Linked DNA regions of Homo sapiens: region 2 is linked to region 1. A link means that fine-mapping ties the variant in region 1 to the expression of a gene that starts in the linked region. Tissue or cell type: testis. Region 1 holds a variant in brackets; the other region holds the start of a gene. All regions are shown on one strand. Distances are between the middles of the regions.

Region 1 (5,383 bases):
CATAGTGGACCATCTTCAGCCATGGCACATGGTAATGTTGTGTACAGAGAAACCAATCAACCAACCAACAAAACTGACAGCAACCATTACTAAATGGCAGAATAAAGCATCATGGTAATTGAATCGAAAGCATGTATATGAGATTCAAAGAAATTGTTGTAATGCTGGTCAGCAAAAAAAAGGCAAAGAAATTTTTGAATGATTGTTGCAAAAGTGAAATTTTTCAGAAATATTATCATCTGGCTTTTGGTTCTTTTTAAAACCCCAGTGGATGAGACTTTCTTTTACTTTCAGACTCTTATAATACCTTACATAGTTGTAAGCCTATAGCACACTCTCAATGTATCTTAGTTCTTGATTTATTTTATCTTGATTTAGAAGGTTTCATACTTGATCTCAGAATATTCTTTTCATTAACAGAAGCCAGAATTGATAGTACCACCAAATGAGTGAAAACAACAGAAAAAAGAGTGATATTATTTGTTTTCCTGTTATAAAGTCAAAGAAGTAATAAAAATACTAACATCAGGTAGTGTCTATTAATAGAATAATGCACAGAACCTTAGAAAATCTTAATGTAACAGCAAAAGGAGAGAGAGCAAAAGGTGTCATCTCCCAGGCCAGATAAATTTTTCAGTTCATAGAATATACTTTGATTTGTTAAAAGACTGTTCCCTCAGATTAAGGATAAAGCATCTTAATAATACCTCTATGAATGGGCCCCAAAGGTTTCAGTAAACTGGCTATACGATAGTGCAATTCAGAGGGCCAAGTGTACCACTAATTCAAAAGGGAGGACTTTGCTACTGAATCCACTGGATAGAAGAGCGAATTAGGCTGATAGTTCTTATAATCTACATTATTTTGTCTGGATGGCTGTGACCTATATACAAGGTGAGTTGTACTTTTTACTTTATGGTCATTTCTAGGGCATAGAATTGCTCTTCACAAAATACATGAAAACCTTTGCATAAGTCTGTGATCTCGGTTAGGGGATGGAGGAGGGCTGGCATGATCCATCAGATTCATCAGAGGGAGTTTTTGAAAGCACATGTATGTACTACCTCTATAGGCCCTCACTGGTATTAAAGTGAGTACACGATATGCTGTAGCAGTGCTGGGGCAGGGAAAAGGTTGAAAAACAAACATAACTTGCTTGGATATTGCATGTTAAGATGCATTTAGAACCTGAATGATGTGGGAATATCCACTTCATTCTTGCAAAGGTGTGAAGTAAGGCAAGTCCCAAGAATGGTTTTGTTAGCAGAGCAAAATGGCCTTCATAAATTAAGACAGAAGCATTTCACGTGCCATATTATCAGGGAGAACTTGTAGGGACTCATGCCTTCTTTCACAGTGCCTTGAAAATAGCACAGTGAAGCACCACAAGCAACCATTTCTCAATTGTTTTCTACTTGATTAGCTTGAGTGGCTGACCCAGTTGCTGACGTTCGGAGTAGTATTGCTTGCCATCTGACAACACACAGGAACAAACTGTTGCGTATTCCAGAGTCACAGACCTATTTGAAGGGAATGAGATGCCTTTGGTGTATTGGTGATATCACTCTGATGATGTTACTTTGTTTTTCAGTTTATATGATAACCATTTAGAAAATTATTTGCTTCTAAAAAGGATTTAAAAAGAAGAGCAAGTACTATTAAAAAAAAGCAACATCAAAAATCTTATATTGGTCAGCAAATATAAGTATGTTTTAATTTTTTAATGTTACTTAAATTAGACACTTCAAACAAACTAAAGCAATTGAGTCAATAATAATTTTAAATTATATTAAAGAAATCTATTTTTGAAATAATAGTATATTTAAAAAGCCACCCTTATGTAAATGAATTCTGAAGGAATTACAAAAACAAATCTAGGTAGAGTTTGGTTCCTCATTCACAAATTCTTGACTTTCATCAGACTCGTTTAATCTAAACTTGGTTGTACCTCTAGGGAGAAACACCTCTTCCTAACTTATTCTGAATCCTTAGTGTGGAGTGAAACTGGCAGGATGAAGAAAGTCTTCAGGTAGGGTTGGGACTCTCATCTGCATTCTAGGTCAGCTGTCTGGAGATTAAGAAATTTGCAGTTAACAGGAACAGGAACAGGTTGCAAATAAGAATTTAGTTCAGGTAATATGGGAGGTGTCAGCAAGTGTCAGTGATCAGGAAAATAGGACAGCACAGGAAGAAAAACCAATATCAAAAGAAAACATATTGAATCAAGGGTTAGTGCTGGGTGCTAAGGGTCGGGGGAGAGTGGGTATTAGCCACAAAGACACAGTCAGGGAATGTAATGGAGCATTTACTGAGATCCTTTCATTTTTCAGGCACAGGAATAAATTCTTTACCTTAATCTTCCTGACTCTGCTAGGTAGGAATCATTTTATAAGAAAACAAGCAGACATTGAACAGCTTGCCCAAGAACACACAGATAGTGAGAGTCTAAATTTGATCCTAGTTCTGTCTGCCTTCAGAACTTATATTCCTTCCACTGTAACATGAGAACAAGGGTTAGGCATATGGAATTATAGAAATGCATTTAAATCTAATTACAGAGTATATAAACCTTGCTTAACAGTACTCAAAAGGCATTAGAAGATGTGGTTTAGGGTGTGCTTGAGACAGGAACAGTTGCTTTTTGATTCTCTGGGGGAGTGAGGGAGGCTTTAGGTATCTGTGCATGGAGAAATCAGGCATGGAGATAGCTACTATCCATCTGAAGTGAGAAAAAAATCTCACATTTAGGATGAACTTCTGCAATCAAATAAGGGAACTATGAGAAAAGTTTTCTGGACCCTGGGTAAGGATGGGGGTGGGGAGAATCAGAAGTTTGAGAGGTGTCAGTGCTTCCAGTCAGGTCTGCATGTTTTCGTGACTACAGATCCTATCAAGACCTCCCTGCAAATTCCCACACCCTTCA[A/G]TGGCTCTAGTTCTTTATCAGTCTCCAGTCCCTTTTAGGCCTAGGAGTGTTAACAGCTTCTCGCTATTGCTAGTCCCTGGGTACGTCACCATGCCTTGTTGATTCCCTTAACCCTTGCTCCTTGGTTAAAAAACCTGTTCAAAAATCCCAGCTGAGAATGCAGCCTGATTCTTGCAAGATCCACCTGTTGGAGCAGAAGTCAGTGCAGGTCAGCAGATGAGTCACTGCAGACTCCCCTTAGCAGGCAGATGGATCCAAAGTTCAGGGGATCTGGTAGCAGGCATCAGACTGCTGGAGACAGGATATCTAGGCTGTGTCTCAACATCAGGTACTGAAGATGCCAGACTTTTGGACTCAAGTCAACATATTTGGAGTGGAGCTGATTTATATGCTTCTTGTTAATGGTCTGGTCTTAATGTGTGTGTGTGTGTGTGTGTGTGTGTGTGTGTTGCGTGGAGGGTGAGAAGTAAGGAGCAAGACTATTCGGAACAGAAGCTTGAGAGTTGAGGCCCTTGGCCCAACCCATGCTGTGCTTAACAAACATAATTCCATGCTAACTAAACCGGAAGTTCTGAACTACAGATAGGGTGTCAAGGAGATTGTGTGTGCGCGTGCATTGTGTGTGTGTGTGTGTGTGTGTGTGTGTAAGGCCCCTCCTCTCAAAGATAAATAATAATGGTCATTTATGAGTGCTTGCTGTGTCAATCACTGTTCTGAGTGCTTTGCTTACAACAACCCTTGTAATCCTGGTAACAACTACATTTAGGAGGGTACAAATATTACACCAACTTTCCAGATGAGGACGTTGGCACAGAGAGATGAAGACCGAGGTCTCACAGTGAGGAACCCTCTGGGTGGAGAATAACCCAGGTACACTGGTTTTAGAGTCCGCTGTCCCCAGCACCACACAATACTGTCTCTGTGCCTGACTCTGGACTTGCGAGGAAGTGTGTTGGTGTATATTATTCACCTTCATGCACTCAGAACCTAGCACCATGCTGGCACGAGGCATGGTTATTTGTTGATTGAATGAATGCACTTTTGCTAGGCCGCGAGGACTGTGGCAAACCCCAACAACCAACAGTTCGTAGGGTTAGATCGCAAACTTTTCTCCGTTGGACGGTGCTGCCGGGCCCACCCTTTCCTTACCACAGCCCGGCACCCAGGCAGCCCCTAAACGGAGATGGTCTGCATCTGCAGGCGCGGGGAAAGGCATAGCAGGCAGCGCCCTGAACAAATCAGAAAAACAGCCTTCGGCTCTGGAGCCCACTCCGGCACGGCCTCAGGTGCTCTACCCCGCGGGATCCAGGGAGTGGCCGCCACTCACAGTTGCCCCTCCTGTCCGCTCCGGTCCGCTCCCGCCGCCCGAGGTCCGCGACGCCCCGCCCAGTGGGTGGAGTGTGAGGCGGGGAGGTCGCTCGACTCGCCGGCGCTGTGGCCTCCCGCGGAGCCGCTCAGACTTTCCCTGCCGGCACATGGACCTGGCCCAACCCTCACAGCCAGTAGACGAGCTGGAGCTCTCGGTGCTCGAGCGGCAGCCAGAAGAGAACACGCCTCTCAATGGTGCCGACAAGGTCTTCCCTTCTTTGGACGAGGAGGTCCCCCCGGCCGAGGTAAGGTCCCCTTGGCGCTGGCCCTAACTTGCCGGCGGCGGGACAGTAGTAGGACCCGGGCCTGGCACCCGCGAGTTTCGGGTTTCCAGTCAGGCGGGGCGTCGACGGCGCCGAGCGAGGGTGGGGCGCGCTCGAGTGCTCTGAATGGAGCCGAGTCACCGCGACACCTTTCGGCCCGAGCAGTCCCCTCCCCAGCCCCTGGGGTCCTCCAACCCCTCTGACCCCCGAGGCGCTTTAGGAATCCTAGTGGTGAGGTGTGGCCGCTGCTGTCTTCAGAGAGGTATTCCGGAGATGGAAGTAGTTTTTTAAAGTTATGTAACTTTTAATTCAGTTTTTCTTTTTTCCAGTAGGGAGAATGAGAATGACAAATTGAGTATCCTCCTTCTCTCAGAATCTCTTCTGTCCTCCTCTTACCTTCACTGCCTTGCCACTTCTCTCCCTCCCCTCCACCCACCTCGCCGCAGCCCCCAGCCTTCTTCCATGCCTACCATCCGCCAAGCACTTTCTGCCTTCTCCCAGCCTGGCCATTGGATTCTGCCGGAAGAGAGATAGGGGAGAGCACAGAGGAGAGAAAGCGGTCAGAAGGGGAGAAGGGGTAGGGCTGGCGTAGAGATGGGGCGGGCGGGTTAGGGGGTCGGCGCGGGGGAGGTGAACTTGCCCTGCTCAATTGAAAGAAAATAATTTCAAAGTTCTTGTCTCGAAGGTTGAGACTTCGCCCACCTTGCTTTTACCTCCTCTCAATCCCTAAGGAAGTCCCTGGCTATTTTTAGGCCAAGCTCTTTTCTGATTCATCCCTAGCAATGATGGGAACATTATTCACTCTCATCAAAGACTTGTAAAACATCAG
Region 2 (5,383 bases), 49 kb after region 1:
TCATTATATTTTTTATACTAATGAGGAAACTGAGGCCCAAAATGCTAGGCAACTGGTCTGAGGATCCACAGCCACTAAGGGGGAAAAGCTGGGTTTGCTGCTGGCAGGTCTCTTCCTCTGAGACTGAGCTCCTCTCATGAAGGGATGAGTGCCATTCTATTCTGTGCAAAATTTCCCTGACTTCTTAGCTTATTTGATCTGGAGAGACACGGTTGGGGGGGTATGCTGACTAGATGATAACTGGGTGTTGGGGTGACAATGAAAATTAGATACCAATATATACAAGACTTTTGAATACGTTAACGGAAACATTTTATTTAATTATTTTAATGAATTTATTTTTAAGACTGGGTCTTGCTATGTTGTTCAGGCTGCCCTCAAACTCCTGGGCTCAAGCAATCCTCCTGCCTCAGCCTCCTGAGTAGCTGGGACTACAGGTGCATGCCACTGCACTTGGTTCAAGGGAGACCTTTTAAATCATCATAGAAATAAAGATGTTGGGCAAACTGATCAACTATTTGGAAAAAAATTTACATCTGACACCATATATTGAATATATGTTGCCAAATGTAAAATAACAAAATCAAAACTTATGTGAGTTGATTTGTCTTATCTTAGGAAGAGCAAAGAATTTTAAGCATGAATGCAATGGCAGAAACCAAAAAGCTTTCTAGATTTAAAATCGAATTTTCTTTAAAATAAATAAAAAACCATAAGAAGTCCAAATAGCATAAGATGTGTGCACCTTGGAAAAAGGTTTTTTTTCTTACATAAAACAAAATTTTAAAGTAAAAAAATTTTTTTAAAGTTTTTTTGCACTTATTCAGTGCACGTGATATGCCAGAAACAATGCCAGGAACCAGGAATTCAAAGATAAATAAGAAACAATCACTACATTTGAGCATCTCATATCTAGTAATAAAAATAGTAATTTATATAATTGTTAGAACAATGCTAGAGTAGAAGATTGACAAGGGGCTGTGACAACCCAGGGTAGAGAAGTCTCAGACAACATGATTCTTAGGAAGGGACATGAGATATTCCACAGGACCACCAATCCTCTTTTCGGCAAGTGGTCAAAAGTGGGCTACCATTTTTTCCTGTGTTCCACTCTCCAGTAGCATGAACTGAGACCAGGGATTCCAAACATAACCCTGTGAAGACCCCCTCTGGCTCGCTTACTCTCTCTAGATCACCCCACTTTATACCCTAGAGATTACCTTGTCTGTGGTGGCACTATTTTGGTGGCACGGCTTTGATATTAAGGAAGATGATGGTCAGAAAAAGAAAGCAGAAAATATCTTCTAATTTTGAACCCTACTTTATGTCAGGCACTATGCTAGCACAATACACACTAGAACTCTCTAAGGTAGATATTGTATTATTATTTCTACTTAAAATAAAGAGGCTGAGGTCCAGAAAGTAAATCTGAGTTCTGTGCCTATTTAATCTAGATGACCTCTGCTTACCTGCTTGCAGGGAGTGCACATCAAAGGAAGACTCAAGGTGGCAGGAAGCTTGCTGTTTATTTCAAACTTAAAATAGTGGCTGAAAGAGGGTGGTGATTTTGACCTCCTTGTGGAGCATGAGGAGCTCAGGAGAGCATCTCCTTCCCGGGCTTTCAGAAAGTTGTTTCATTTCTTAGGTGGTAACCTATTATATAGACCTTCCTTGGTAAAGTCTTTCCACCTTTCAGCTATTCTCCATCAGCTGCTCACCATGATTCTTGGGAGAAGGCAAAACCTATGGGAAATTTAATGTGGTATCTGGCACAGAGTAGGCACTGAAGGCTTGGCAGTTTCCTTACCCAACTACTTTCTACCCCAACTTAGTGTGCTAACTGTATACTAGCTTTCTTTTTCTCTTCCTTGCTGTATTGTCCTGTCCCATCTCCTCTGCTCTCCCACAGGGAGTCTAGACTTACCTGTTTTCTCTCAGCAGAGAATTTCCCATCCTCTCAGTCCTCTCAGGGCTTCCCCTCCGTCCCTTTACCACTTCCTTCTTGCCTTGTGCTCTGACAGGGCAACTCCTGACTTAAAGAAAGGGCTGTGTGGCTCTGGCCACCCGTGCAGAGACAGCAGAAAGGAGAAGGGTGTCTCTGCAGAGGGAAGGAAGAGGCTGGGGGAGGAGTGTTAGAGGCACGCATGTGCAGAATGTCCTAACATGTCAGTGCCTGAACCAACCTGGCTGTTGGCCATAACCAGCAACTACCCGTCAATGAGAGCTTCGAACCTCTGGGGAATCCCAGGTCTGAAATTACAGATGGGCCATGGGAGTTTTTCCACTACAGATATTTACGTTTATAAATCACGTTGTCTTCTTAGAAAAGTCAGAAGGAGGTTAAAACAGTCAAGCCACAGACCTGTAGAAAATATAGTATCAACAACTCTCAAATCTGAAAACAAACACCCAGTAACAAAATGGGCAAAATATTTGAACAGACATTTCACCAAAGGAACTATACAGATGAACATTAAAAGATGCTAAACATTGTAGTTATTAGGGAAGTGTAAATCAAATCCACAATGGAACACTTTTACATACTTATTACAATGGCTATAAAACCCTGACAATATCAAGTATGGCAAGGTATGCAAAGCAACTGGAAGTCTCATGCATTGCTGATGAGAATGCAAAATGACAGCCTTTTTGGAAAGAAGTGATAAGGACAGAAGGCAGGGCTTTACTGGGTAGAAGAGGGTGGTTCACTGGCAAAGGTCCCACCCTCAAGCCTTGAAACCGAAGCCCTAAATGAGAACAGTTATCCCTGTTATCCTGCCCAAATGTTACTCTTTAGCCTGTCCAGCCCCCCTATCCCGTGCCCATATAAACCCCAGACCTCAGCTGGCAGACAGACAAGCGGCTGAACATCAAGAGGAGAAGAAGCAACTGAGTGTCAGAGATGTGGCTTAACTTCAGGTGGCATGACTTCAGGGAGGAGCCCGGCCAGAGACAGCAGACTTCAGGGAAAGGTCACTTTCTTCCTGCACCATCCCCTTTGCAGCTCCCCTTCCACTGAGAGCCACTTCCACCATTTAATAAAATCGTCCACATCCATCAACTTTCAAACCATTCATGCAACCTGATTCTTCCTGGATGCTGAACAAGAACCTGGGTACCAACAGGGCAGGGTGTAAAAGGCTGCCACCCTGACTCTCCATTGAGTGGGTTAACACTTAGCTGTCCACGGATGGCAACTGCTAAAAGAGCATGAATTGTAACACATCCCTAAATGCTGCTGTTGGGCTGGAGCCCAAAAGTGCTCATCGAAGCCCTGGCACCCGCTTGCCTGCGTGCTCCCGCTCCCACAGAGAGTTTGAGCATGGTGGTGGCCAAGTAAGTAGGCCACACCCCTGTCGCAAGTCCCGAGAAGGGGTCAAGGGAACTCTCCCATCTCAGAAGTATGGCAATTTCTTATAAAATTGAACATAGGGTTACTGTACAACCTGGCAATTTCACTCCTAGGCATTTAGCCAAGTGAAACTTATGTCCTCTAAGACTGTGTGTACAAATTTTTATATGTGCTTTACTCATAATAGCCGAAATACCCTGGAAATAGCCCAACTGATCTTCATTGAGTGAATTGCTAAATAAGCTCTGTGTTATATTACATCCACACAACAGAATCCTGACCATCATTGAAAAGGAGTGGACTATTAATACATGCAATAACTTGGATCAATCTCAAATGCATTACACTAAGTGAAAGAGACCAGACTTAAAGCCTACCTTCTGTGACATTAGAGATAAGGTGAAACCACAGGAACAGAAAACATATTAGTGTTGCCAGGAGCAAAAGGTGGGGGAGGTGTTGACTTTCAAAGCACAGGAGGAAATTTTTTGTTGTTGTTCTTTATCTTGATTGTGTTAGTGCCCACATGACTGTATGCATTTCTCATAATTCACAGAACTGTATACTAATAAGGGTGCACTTCACTGCACATAAATGAATCTCAACAGACAAAAGGTTAAAAAAGAAAGAAATCTCGGGACAGGAATCATGGATTTTTGTATTATCCTTGTATTTGATGGTTGTTTCCAGTTTGGTCACTCATCTGTTTGTTCATTCCTTTAACAAGTATGTGTCGAGTGCCTACTATGTGCTGGGCACTGTAGGTTCAATGGTAAGAAAAGCAGATACAGGACTGCTCTTGTGAAGTTCCTTGAAAGAAATAAAACAAAGTGCAAAATATTTTATTGCTTGTCCTTGAGTAATGTAAAGGTCATATCTAAAACAGGCAGGAGAAGGATGGGGAGTGGGCTTAGAAGAAACAATTTCAGAGAAACTAGGGTACTAGCTGTGCAACCCCAGATTCATCTCACATCATTCTTATCCTTATGGCTGCTCTCCAAACTTCCTTTTGGCTCTGTGAGGGATTTCCAGGAGCACCTTATTAAAAATGGAAGATTTTATTATAAAAGATAAGCCATTATTGATCATTCACTTTTCTAAAAAAACACAAATGTGAGAATAAAATAAAAACACACAAGACTCACTAGCCCCTGCAAGACAGAAAGCAGCCCTGGACAGAGAGCCTCCTTATTATATACCTAATGCCTGAACTCACACATTCTAGGGTTTCATGTTTTGTTACCTCTTGCAAAGGATAGGAAACTGGCTAGAAAATTCATGTAAAGGAAGGTCACAACTTTAAAGCTATCTGACGCTAATGACTTGTATAATCTAGTTTGCAGCTCTGAGAGACAATATCAAATAAGCATTGTCAAATACTACTCCCACCTAACCTTTGCTGTCATTGTTCTTTGAAATTATCTTTGGGATTGGTTATGTTCTCTCACTGTAGCTTTCGTTTATCTCAGAGCACACACCCTAATGTCCATGTGCAGTCTCCATGCTCAAGTATTCCAGAATACAATTTTCTGGAGTCTAACTTCAGTTGACACCTGACTCCAAATTGCAAATCTACCTCCAACCAAAAAGAAATGAGAAATTAGTTTTTAAGGGCAATTAGCAAATATATTACAAAAATAATTTCAGATAAACGCTATGTGACAAATGGTGCTGTCAAGTCCTCTTATGTGAATACTAGTCATTGTTTGTCTTGAGAAAATGTGTGCAGTGGAGGATATCTTCTTGGCATATAAAAGGGGAAGATTTCTTTCTGTTTTAGTAATCTCTTTAGGGGATTGCCTGTGGTGTGCATTACATTCTGGTTGAATATTCAGAAATAAAAGTGTTTTCTTTCTCTTCTATTTTTGTGGTGAGGTTTTCTGAAATAGCAGGAGATTTTGCTTTTAATTCTATTTCCCCAATAGTAGCTCCATTAATTTTTTTCATGAATCCCTCATGTAATTGACTCTAGGAAAGATGTTAGGGTGGTAAATTTTCTTATTCTGTAAATATTTGAAATTCAGGAAAACC

What was found. PIP is the estimated chance that this variant, and not a neighbour inherited with it, causes the effect.
Region 2: TBILA starts here. The variant in region 1 is fine-mapped to the expression of TBILA in testis (GTEx, PIP 0.94).

The regions. Positions count from the first base shown.
Region 1 is chr3:112,082,010-112,087,392 of GRCh38, forward strand. It overlaps C3orf52 (chromosome 3 open reading frame 52), which reads left to right and starts at 4,380. Exons shown (of 6, transcript NM_024616.3): 1 at 4,380-4,536. The coding sequence starts at 4,399. RefSeq lists an enhancer at 4,042-4,558 and silencers at 4,075-4,124, 4,175-4,224, 4,245-4,294. The variant A/G (reference allele first, on the strand shown) is at 2,924.
Region 2 is chr3:112,131,168-112,136,550 of GRCh38, forward strand. It overlaps TBILA (TGF-beta induced lncRNA), which reads left to right and starts at 2,256. Exons shown (of 1, transcript NR_157393.1): 1 at 2,256-4,192. GCSAM (germinal center associated signaling and motility) reads right to left here and starts at 2,081. Exons shown (of 6, transcript NM_152785.5): 1 at 1,925-2,081. The coding sequence starts at 1,953. It also overlaps a transcript of C3orf52 not described here. RefSeq lists enhancers at 1,687-1,746, 2,227-2,406.